2 linked regions of the Homo sapiens genome follow. The protein of the gene in region 1 interacts with the protein of each later gene in a biochemical or structural test. Each region holds a gene or a part of one and is shown in the gene's direction. Other genes may lie near its edges.

Region 1 (4,896 bases):
TTTGTTGTCATTTGGCCTACAGGTGGTGAGACTGAAGAAGAAAAGATTCGAGTGGACATCATAGAGAACCAAGTAATGGATTTCCGCACACAACTGATAAGGCTCTGTTACAGCTCTGACCACGTGAGTTTCCTTAGCACACATCTGCTGAATGGAGTATCAGAAAAAGGGGTATTTAGGAACCCAAGGGTTATCTCTGTTCCATTCTGCTGCTGCTACCTTCCCACCAATCCAGATTGTTAGAATAAGAAACAGAACTTATATTTTTTGGTTTGTTTTGTCATGTAATTCTGGTGCTGGTGCCTCTTCTTTCTAAACTCCTCTTTCCCCACCCTGCCATCCTCAAGTGAAGGCAATGAGAACCCACCTAGAGAAGGGGCTACTAAGTGTCCATCACTGGCCTGTGCCCTGATTAACTACAAAGATGATCACCACTATTCTCATTCTGTTTTTTCCTCTCAGGAAAAACTGAAGCCTCAGTACTTGGAAGAGCTACCTGGACAACTGAAACAATTCTCCATGTTTCTGGGGAAATTCTCATGGTTTGCCGGGGAAAAGGTAGGAAGAAGGGAAAAGAAGAGGATACTTCTCTATCTCTGCAGGCTACTACTCCTCAGACCTAAGCATCTTATTGCTTTTCTTCTAGCTCACCTTTGTGGATTTTCTCACCTATGATATCTTGGATCAGAACCGTATATTTGACCCCAAGTGCCTGGATGAGTTCCCAAACCTGAAGGCTTTCATGTGCCGTTTTGAGGTGACGTTTCCTGCACCTTTCTCTTATAAAAACACTCACAGGCTCCCCTGGGACCTGCAGGATCCCATAGTGGAGGATTCTTCCCCGGCTTTTGCCTAATGGGATCAATGGTTGGACACCTCTAGACCTTTAAGTCTTGGGAAGAGCCTAACTTCTATACCTTGGAGGCACTGTCTACAAAAAAATGGAGGAGGTAGACGCAGGCAACACGTGAATGTTGCTGTTCTGGTATGCATCTGTTGGACTGGGTTGGGGTCGTTATAAGATTTGGTGTATTTTCCTTTCAGGCTTTGGAGAAAATCGCTGCCTACTTACAGTCTGATCAGTTCTGCAAGATGCCCATCAACAACAAGATGGCCCAGTGGGGCAACAAGCCTGTATGCTGAGCAGGAGGCAGACTTGCAGAGCTTGTTTTGTTTCATCCTGTCCGTAAGGGGTCAGCGCTCTTGCTTTGCTCTTTTCAATGAATAGCACTTATGTTACTGGTGTCCAGCTGAGTTTCTCTTGGGTATAAAGGCTAAAAGGGAAAAAGGATATGTGGAGAATCATCAAGATATGAATTGAATCGCTGCGATACTGGCATTTCCCTACTCCCCAACTGAGTTCAAGGGCTGTAGGTTCATGCCCAAGCCCTGAGAGTGGGTACTAGAAAAAACGAGATTGCACAGTTGGAGAGAGCAGGTGTGTTAAATGGGACTGGAGTCCCTGTGAAGACTGGGTGAGGATAACACAAGTAAAACTGTGGTACTGATGGACTTAACCGGAGTTCGGAAACCGTCCTGTGTACACATGGGAGTTTAGTGTGATAAAGGCAGTATTTCAGACTGGTGGGCTAGCCAATAGAGTTGGGACAATTGCTTACTCATTAAAAATAATAGAGCCCCACTTGACACTATTCACTAAAATTAATCTGGAATTTAAGGCCCAACATTAAACACAAAGCTGTTGAAATATTGATGAAAATGTAAGAATTTTTGTGACCACGGGGTAGGAGAAGTTTCTTTAAAGACGTAAAAAGAAAAAAACCATAGGCTGCTCTGCCTGTGGAGTAGCCATTCTTTATTCTTTTACTTTTTAAAATAATAACAATCACAAAGGAAAGATTTGCCAATTGAATAGGATCAAATTCTACAACTTTTCCTAAGGCACCCACAAATAAATGACAAGTGAGACAAAAAGCACTAGTATAAAGATTATATAAAGACCTATAAATCATTAAGACAACTGAGTTTTTAAAAATGGACAAAATCCATGAACAATTTATAAAATAGAAATATAGCCAAAAATGTCTAAAAGATGTTTATGATGTAAGGAATTATCAATTACAACAGTGAGAAACCATATTTCCTTCTATCCGATGAGTAAAAAGTTTCTAAAGTGTTGGCAAGGCTTAGGAAAGTGATATGCATTTCCTGCTGGTCAAGTTGTAAATTAGTATAGCTACTTTGGAGGACAATTGTAAAATTTAAATCATATCCTATGACCCAGCAATTCCATGCTATAAAAACTCATCCATGGCCGGGCTTGGTGGCTCACGCCTGTAATCCCAGCACTTTGGGAGGCTGAGGTGGGCAGATCACGAGGTCAAGAGATCGAGACCATCCTGGCCAACATGATGAAACCCCGTTTCTACTAAAAATACAAAAATTAGCTGGGCATGGTGGCATGTGCCTATAGTCCCAGCTACTCAGGAGGCTGAGGCAGGAGAATTGCTTGAACCTGGGAGGCAGAGGTTGCAGTGAGCCGAGATCACGCCACTGCACTCCAGCCTGGCTACAGGGCGAGACTCTGTCTCAAAAAAAAAAAAAAAAAAAAAAAAAAAACATTCAAAGAGACATATACTAAGATGTTCACTGTGGCATTGTCTGTAATGACAAATAAGTGGAAACCGTGTAAATACCTGTCAATACTATGGAGTACCATGTGGCAACGGAAGAATGAGACTGAACTGTGTGAACTAACATGCAAAGATCCCCAAAACAGGCCAGGTGTGGTTGCTCACAGCTGTAATAACAACACCTTCAGAGGCTGAGGTGAGAGGATCAGTTGAGGCCAGGAGTTTAAGACCAGCCTGGGCAACATAGTGAGACCCCTGTCTCCCAAAAATTTTTTTTAATTAGCTGTGCGCAATTGCTCATGCATAGTCCCAGCTACCCAGGAGGCTGAGGTGGGAGGATCACTTGAGCCCAGGAATTTGAAGCTGCAGTGAGCTGTGTTCTTGCCACTGCACTCCAATCTGGGTGACTGAGCAAGACCCTGTCTCTTAAAAAAATAAAAAAGATCTCCAAGCATAGAGAAGAGTCTGGAGGGAAACACCAAACTCATAACAGTCTTACTGCAGGCAAGTGGGATAAAGGCCCAGACTCCATGGTGGAAGTTAAAGGGCATTTCCAAGTTAAGGCTAAGACTTGCTTTTCTAACTAAGAGAATGTGCTCATGCATTGCTTGTGTAGTAGAAACTAGTTTTTAGAAAAGAAAGCAAACTTAAGAAACACTGACTCCTGTGGAGATGACTTGGCACCACTCTCCTTTCACAGAGCAGAGTCTGAATAGTCTTCAGAGATAGGCCTGTGGGCCAGATTGCCATCCCCTATGGACCAGAAGCCAAGGATCTCTCTAGTGATGGTCAGAGGGCCCAAATGGCAGGGATACCCAGTGATGTCAGGAGGAATAGTACAGACAGAAGGTGCTAAGCAGACAATTCAACTGCCATGTTTTGCCACCCCCTGTGAGCAGGGATTAGGTGTTCAGGCCAGTATCTTGGGCATGGGGGAGCCTTTGGCCAGAAGAGGTATAAAGCTCAGAAGTTTTTCAGTCTGATAACTATTGATATAATTTCCATAGTGTGAGGGAGCGGTATGCTCTACCCTTGTGTATTTAAGGCAGGACAGAGAAATTGAGGATGCCCCTGGGGCTAGATCGATGATATGACCAGAAATCAAAAAGGGAATGCATTATTTATTGCTGTGTAACACTGTTAAGAGAGGAGGTAGTTAAGGGATGGATAGGCACATAGAGAGGGAAGGTCTCAGGAGAAGGGATAGAAAGGAACTATGTTCACAAGAACAACGGCAAGACAGTGCCTATACTGCCTCTACAGTTAATAGGAAAAACGGAAGAAGTTACCCTTAAGCTAGGATGTTGCTCAGAAGTGACCATCCCAACTTTGGTGCGGGCACAATAAATCAGCCTAAATGTCCCTAATTTAACCCAGCTCATTATAATGTCATTAAACATGACATTAGCATTGTGGTTTTAGCACCCCCATGGGTTTTGCTTAGGCACTCATGGGTAATAACCAAGATGGAGTCCCTTTGGCAAAACTTAGGCATGCACAGCTGTAGTACCCCAAGAAGAAAATGTTACTTCTCTCATCTGGGCAAAACCCACAGAAGACTTCCCAGCTTCTGCCACATAAAAGACACAGAACACAGACGCCTTACTGGCAACCTGCTTTCAAGACCCCTGTCTTTGCTGAGAGCTTTCCTTTTTCCCAATAAATTCTACTCTGCCCTACTCACTCTCCATGTCCATGTGCCTAATTTTTCGTGGTCATGGGACAATAGCCTGAACCTTGCCATACTCCAGGGGCAAAAGAAGACTTCTACACTATTCCCACAAATTTAGCAGCTAAAACAATACATGTTTATGGTCTCAAAGTTTTGTGGATTAGGAGTCTGGGCACAGCTGAACTGGGTCCTCTGCTCAGGGTTTCATCTGAAAACTGCCATCAGTGTGTCATCCAGAGCTCTGATCTCATCCCCAGGCTCAGTGGGAGAAGGATCTGCCTCCAAGTCTGTGTAATTGTTGATAGCGTCAGTTCTTTGTTCCCTGTGGGACAGAGGCCCTCCATTTCTCATTGGCTGTCGGCTAGAGCCACCTTCAGTTCCTTGCAAAAGGGATCTCCTCAACACGGCCACCCATTTCACCAAAGCTAGTAAAGGAGTCTGCTGGAAGAAGGAACACTACAGTCCTATGTAATCTGATCACAGCAGTGACATCCCATCACCTGTTCTTATTCTATTAGAAGCAAGTCACCGGCCCCACCCACACTCAAGGGCATGAGTACCAGGAGGTAGGATCATGGGGGCCATCTTAGAGTCTGTTCACCACAAGAGAAGAAGGAAGGAAACAGGAGA
Region 2 (7,294 bases), on another chromosome or scaffold:
ATCCTGCAGTGCCCAGGACAGCCCCACAAAGACTCATCCAGCCTGAATGTCAATAGTGCTGAGGTTGAGGAGCCTTACTTTACGGGAACTAGGCAGGAGGAGTCTGTATGCCCAAGGACGTTGGTCATTATCACGTGTCCACTTCAGTACAGCACTACTCAGAGGCAATGCTTTTTGGGTAACGGATTTTTCTCTTAACAGGTTCTTCATTTTGAAAATGTCAAAGATGTACCCTTTGGATTTCAAACAGTAACATCGGATGTAAACAAACTTAGTTCCTTTTACTCACTGAAACTAATCAAGCGGCTCTACGTAGACAAATCTCTGAATCTTTCTACAGTAAGTTGTTTAAAGCAAGTAGCAAGACTTAACTTTTTACAAGGAGTGGCATTTTCATGCTGTTAGACCTACAACTTTTTTTCAGTGAAATTCCTTTCTAGGATGTTCACTTGTGATTTGAGGCTTTAAATAAATAAATCCTAGTGGAGAGGTTGAGTATAGTGGGAATCAATTGCAGTCACATCTTCTAACTCAAAATACAGAGAAGCTTATGGGCTTTCCTTTTCTCTCTCAAATAAATCTTACCCTTTCTTTTACCTTCCTCTGAGAGAATGGAGAACAGAGTAATTAACTCTCTAATAAATGTAGCTCCATAGACAATGAGCTGTCTTACAGAGTGTAAGACAGCTAATGATTTAAACTTCTTTCTCCTTAAAGAGCAGGGCATATGGCCTGGGACAATGTTTTAAGCTCTCCACCTCATTTTTTATGCACACATTCTTCTGATGTTTCTCAAAATCAGTAAGAAAAATAATAACTATGAATTCACAATTTTCATCAGTCACAAATTAGTTTTGTTGGCTGGGCTGGTCAGATGGGGATCTCCACAGGCAGCTCTGGTTATATAAGTTTAGCCATTGCTCTAAGGAATCATACAAACACCACTACGGTACCCATTGTTGTAATATTTAAAAATCTGTATTTGAAACACACAGACAATATTCTAGACTACATGAAGTTTCCCTCTGTACTTCAGTAACACAGAGTTGATTTAGTTCCTGTTTGGATGGTCAGAATTTCAAGGTTTCCAAATCGAAAAGCTAGACTACCAGCTTTTAAATATTTTACCATGATTTTGCAACTTTCTGCAGTAGGTATTTTTGTGGTTAAGATCTTTTGAGGACATGGGTTACTAGATATTGTGAGTATATTTTTTGTTGCTTAAAGATACATACACACAACCATTTTTCTTCCAACAATCATCTGAAGAATTTAAAAAAAAAAACTGAGATGTGAGTTGAAGCCTGAGCATACAACATTTCTAGAAGCTCCCTAAATGATCATTAAAGAGACAATTAACACATTTTTATTGCTGGCAGTGAGGACAATGGAGGCCCTCCTTCATCTGGCTGAGGCTTTCTAATGTTTTCAGGTGAGATTGGTTCTGTCAGTCAATGGTGACAGTGAGTCCCAAGGTTGATTTGCAATTAACTGAAGCTAAGTTAATTGGCTAAGGCTGAAGCTGCTCTGAAGAAATTCAAGAAGCCCTGTGCTTGGAAGTGAACTGACATGACACTGAATCAAGTTATATTTAGTTTCACTGAACTTCCATGCAACATCTGGAATGATCTTAACCAGACTAGGAGTTGTAAAGTTTTGTTTTGTTTTTTTCCTTGGAGATGGAGTCTTTCTCTGTTGCCCAGGCTGGGGTGCAGCGGCATGATCTCGGCTCATTACAAAAGATTTTTTAAAAGACTGCTTTCCATTGCTCCTGCTAGGTGCACAGCATCTGCAAATTTACTAGTTAAAGGTCCAAACAAGTGTGCTCTGTGGAGGATCTCTTGCATAAGAACTATCTGGGTGTTAAAAGGGCAAGTTCTTCAGGCCCTTTTAACACCCAGGTAGTTCTGATTGAACCCAGGTAGTTCTGATTAAACCCAGGTAGTTCTGATTGTCAAGGTGGGAATGGGGTTTAGGGTTGCACATTTTAAATAAGCATTAGAATAAGAACTCCTGTTATGTTCTCTCCTGCATTGTGTTTCCAACCTTAATTTGCAGATGGCACACCTGGAAATTTTGTTAAAATGCATTCTGATTCAGTATGTCTGGGGTGGGGTCTGAGATTCTTTATTTCTAACAAGGTCTCAGGTGATGCTGTACACCACCTTGGACCACAGTTTGAGTAGCAAGGGTCTACAGGATATTTAGTTCAGCAAAGACAAGAGTTTTCTGCTCATAATTCTGTTTTCTATACATTTCCTATATTCTAATATATATGTATCTGTAGACATACAAAATTTTCATGTTTCTGAAATTACAACCCATAAGAGAATTGGGCATATTTAACATAGTGTTTTCCCCAAAGCTGATATTAAATTGATAGATGCATTTAATAATTGAAATTGTCTTATAATTGAAAAAAATGAAACATTCAATACAAAGAAATTCACTGACTTCTACATGAGGTTTCAATTCATATAGTGTTACCAATTTTGAAAGTGTACATATAGCAGTTGATATTTAATAATCCTTTTGTTAGAAGAGAATAACAATGCAATAGCTTGACTACAGACTCTGATTTTATGAACTGCATGTTTTTCAGGAGTTCATCAGCTCTACGAAGAGACCGTATGCAAAGGAATTGGAAACTGTTGACTTCAAAGATAAATTGGAAGAAACGAAAGGTCAGATCAACAACTCAATTAAGGATCTCACAGATGGCAAGTACCCTTTAATTGTTCTGCTATCAATCACCAAGTAAACAGGGCCTTCCATCTCATAAATGTTTGCTCCAAGGATAAAAAAAACATCTGGAGGATTCTCTGGATATTTTTACTACACAAGCTAAATTCTTTCCCTTCAAGCCTGTAAACAACTTGGATTTCTGGGCAATTCTTGTATCATCTCATCACTTGGTAGAAACTGTTGATGCTTCAGTGTTAGTTTACTTTGTCTTGCTCTCTGACGAGCTGTCACAGGCCCTAGTGGAATCCTAGCTGCGCCTCTAACAAAGTATGACTTTGGGCCAATCATGAGGCCATTTTTCAGTCTGGAAATAGAGGGACTGGATTATAACTTCATGATCCCCGAGGCCCCTTTCAGCTGACAAATTTTACAAATTTGTTAAGGAAAAAGGGACATAGGCAACATATGTAAAAGAAAAACCGGCTGGACGCGGTGGCTCACGCCTGTAATCCCAGCACTTTGGGAGGCCAAGGCGGGCGGATCACGAGGTCAGGAGATCGAGACCATCCTGGCTAACACGGTGAAACCCTGTCTCTACTAAAAATACAAAAAATTAGCCGGGCGTGGTGGCGGGCGCCTGTAGTCCCAGCTACTCGGGAGGCTGAGACAGGAGAATGGCGTGAACCCGGGAGGCGGAGCTTGCAGTGAGCAGAGATCGCGCCACTGCACTCCAGCCTGGGCGACAGAGTGAGACTCTGTCTTAAAAAAAGAAAACCAAACCAAACAAAACCGTAGTGTCAGCTTGTCCTCGGTGCCGCAGCTCCCCATGCTGGTCGTTCCTCTGATAGCCCCGGGGTCCAAGAAGCTCCTAGGTTCTTTCTCCGGCTCAGTGCTTCCCCCAGGCGTCTCCCTCGTCGGACTCCTCGTCCCTCCCTTAAAATTGCCGGTGAGTCGTCTTCCTTGCTGGAAAAGAATTAGGGTTATGATGATTTTGAGGGCAAATCAGTGACTTTGTCCCCCTCCCCAGTGGATATATTTATAATTGCATCTGGAGGGACCCGTTGGGAGGCCGGGCCGAATCTAGTCATGAAAGAATGAAGCCTAGGCAGTCGCTGCTGTCTAGGGAGGGATACACTTCCGGGGCAAGGGAGACCCACTTCCTGCGAGAATGACTGGCGCCCCCAGCTACTCTGTCTCTGTACTGACTGAGGAAGTTCTAACAGGACAGTAACTGCAGGATGAGAACATGGGAAGAACAGGGTCTCTGGAGTCATTCAGCACCTAGGTTCAAATCCAGACACTGGTACTTACTAACTGATATTTGGACACAAAGCTTCAATTTACTGAACTGTAAAATGAGGCACATGTTACCTGATTTAATTTTTAAAATTGTATTATATTGTGTTTTATTTCAATAGGTTTTGGGGAACAGGTGGTTTTTGGTTACATGGATAAGCTCTTTAGTGGTTACTTCTGAGATTTTGGTGTACCCATCACCCAAGCAGTGTACACTGTGTGCAATGTGTAGTCTTCTATCTCTCACCTCCTTCCACTCTTCCCCCACCCCACAAAGTCCATTATGTCATTATTATGCCTTTGCATCCTCATAGCTTAGCTCCCACTTATAAGTGAGAACATACAATGTTTGGTTTTCCATTCCTAAGTTACTTCACTTAGAATAATGGTCTTCAGACCAGGCATGGTGGCTCATGCCATAATCCCAGCACTTTGGGAGGCCAAGGCAGCTGGATCACCTGAGGTCAGGAGCTCAGGACCAGTCTGGCCAACATGGTGAAACCCCGTCTCTACTAAAAATACAAAAATCAGCTGGGCATGGTGTCACGCACCTGTAGTCCCAGCTACTTGGGAGGCTGAGGCAGGATAATCGCTTGAACCTGGGAGGCGGAGGTTGCAATGAGCTGAGATCGCGCCATTGCACTCCAGCCTGGGTGAGAAGAGAGAAACTGCGTCTCCCAAAAAAAAAAAAAAAAAAAAAAAAGAATAATGGTCTTCAGCTCCATCTAGGTTGCTGTGAATGCCATTCTTTCTTTCATTTTTTTTTTGAGATAGAATGTTGCTCTGTCGCCCAGGCTGGAGTGCAGCGGCACGATCTTGGCTTACTGTAACCTCCGCCTCCCAGGTTCAAGGGATTCTCCTGTCTCAGCCTCCCAAGTAGCTGGGGCTACAGGTGCGTGCCACTACGCCCAGCTAATCTTTGTATTTTTAGTAGAGATGGGGTTTCACCATGTTGGCCAGGCTGGTCTCAAACTCCTGACCTCAGGTGATCCACCCGCCTCAGCCTCCCAAAGTGCTGGGATTACAGGTGTCAGCCACCGCATCCAGCCATGAAAAGACTTCTGAGTTTGAAATGGGAGGCTCAGGGTTGAAGTTGAAGCTCTGTCGTTTACCGGCTCCCACACTTCTTTGTTCTTCAGGTTTCTTCAATAACACTAATATATATTTAACATATTATATAGCATTGGCAGGACCAGTTACATAATTTGCATGGTCCAGGGCAAAAGTAAAAATGCTGGGCTTCTTGTTTAAACATTTATTAAGAATTTTGAGGTAGTGACAGCTGAACATTAAACCAAGTGCAGGGTCCTTCACACAGGGGTCACAGGCCTGTGAAGTGGGCCCTGAACATTGGTCTGAAAATTGGAGATTAGGTGAATGAAAACCCTTTATAAAAAACCTGTGGGCTATTCAAATGTGAGGAGTTCTTTTTATTAAGGGATCACTCCCCTTGAATTGTTTTGGCTATTGGGATTTAGCTTTATAATAACTGCAATTGTGATTGAGCCCTATGGTGATTACAGTTGACCTTGAGGCAATCAGCCTGCCCGCAAGGAGTGCAATTGAGAGAGTGGATGGAGAGCTGTGGGGTGAAGGGGACAACCTTCAGACATGTTTTCCAGCTGAGGAAACTAGAACAGCTCCTTGGCCTCTCTGAGCCTCAGTTTACTGCACTGTAAAATGGAGATAATGATCTTTGCCTTATAGGACCATTGTGAAAAGACTGAGATAATATATGTGAAATTCTGCCATAAAGAAAGTGATTACGTATTTTCATTCAAGAGCACAGGCTTTGGAGTCAGAAAGAGCTGGCTTTGAATCCTGAATCCACCCTTGTTTATATATCATCCTTGAAAGTGACTTATCATCGCTGAGTCTCAGCTTCCTCATTCATAAAGTAGGAAGAAATATATATAATGTGTATCAAATAGCTTGTATACTGCCTGACACAGAATAGGCATTCAGAATGGTAGCTGTGCTTTCCTTCTTATTTCTCTTCCTTTCTTCCCTGCTCCTTCATTCTCCTCTGCTGACCTCTTTGGTAGATCTGGTTGTGTCAAGGTAGAAGGAGAGAAAGGAGTCCTTCTGAAATTTGATGGTTGGAACCATCAGGCCTTACATGGTGTGACTCCATGAAGTGGTAAATACTCAGTGAATATGCATGTGAATTTCAGATGTAGTTTGGAAGAATAATTCTGCTACTTGTGTTTTCCTAAAATTGTTGCAGGCCACTTTGAGAACATTTTAGCTGACAACAGTGTGAACGACCAGACCAAAATCCTTGTGGTTAATGCTGCCTACTTTGTTGGCAAGTGGATGAAGAAATTTTCTGAATCAGAAACAAAAGAATGTCCTTTCAGAGTCAACAAGGTATGTGGGGCAGCATGTAGCAGTAAAAGGAGCCCAATTATAGATGTGAAAAATGATAGGGACAGAGTGGGGCATAAATCCATTCCAATGAGGAACCTGAGGGCACGGCCGGCAAAGTGCCTTTCCTGAGATGAACAGCTGGAAGGTAAGTGGTACAAAAAGAGCCAGAATCCAGAGGCCCCCCCTCCTCTTTTCCATAATGTCTTCAAGGATCTGAGCTGAGTGAAACTTTATAGAATTTGTAACCCAGCGAGGAAAGCTAAGTCACCAGCTGAAAAATAGCTACAAACATCTGAGAACTTTAGCAGAAAAGGAAAAGACCAAACTCTGTTATCAGAGGACTTTGGATTATCATGAAACCTTGACATCTAGGAATCTTGTTCCTGATTGATTAACTTCTCTAACATCTCATTTCCTTATCGGTTGATAGCGAAGTATATTGTTCTGGGATTTTAATTTATAATTTATAAGATGCTTTGATGGCTGGGCGTGGTGGCTCATGCCTGTAATCCCATGACTTTGGGAAGCCGAGGAGGGCAGATCACCTGAGGTCAGGAGTTGGAGACCAGCCTGGCCAACATGGTGAAACCCTGTCTCTACTAAAAATACAAAAATTAGCTGGGCATGGTTGTGGGTGCCTGTAATCTCAGCTACATGGGAGGCTGAGGCAGGAGAATCAGACCCTGGGAGACAGAGGTTGCAGTCAGCCGAGACTGCACCACTGCACTCCAGCTTGGGCAACAAGAGTGAAACTCCACCTCAAGAAAAACAAACAAACAAACAAACAACAAGACCAGATGCTTTCAGGCACTTGTTGGCTGTGAAAAAACAAAGTATGGCTTACTCATTGACATCACTGGAAGTCATTATGGGAAGAATTAAGGGCCTGTTTTGCAGGCCAGTCTCATTGATACTGTTGAAGTAAATATGTTAAATAATTAAT

What was found.
Region 2: the proteins of GSTM3 (region 1) and SERPINB5 form a complex in vitro, tested with the Homo sapiens proteins (one study listed by BioGRID).

What each region holds. Positions count from the first base shown.
Region 1 is NC_000001.11:109,733,318-109,738,213, reverse strand, and holds the end of GSTM3 (glutathione S-transferase Mu 3), read left to right. Parts: intron 1-22; coding exon 23-123; intron 124-462; coding exon 463-558; intron 559-646; coding exon 647-757; intron 758-1,044; coding exon 1,045-1,143; 3' UTR 1,144-4,277; downstream 4,278-4,896. UniProt on the Homo sapiens protein: Conjugation of reduced glutathione to a wide number of exogenous and endogenous hydrophobic electrophiles. May govern uptake and detoxification of both endogenous compounds and xenobiotics at the testis and brain blood barriers.
Region 2 is NC_000018.10:63,486,745-63,494,038, forward strand, and holds part of SERPINB5 (serpin B5), read left to right. Parts: intron 1-201; coding exon 202-339; intron 340-2,602; coding exon 2,603-2,720; intron 2,721-3,869; exon of another isoform or gene 3,870-3,988; intron 3,989-6,208; coding exon 6,209-6,351; intron 6,352-7,294. UniProt on the Homo sapiens protein: Tumor suppressor. It blocks the growth, invasion, and metastatic properties of mammary tumors.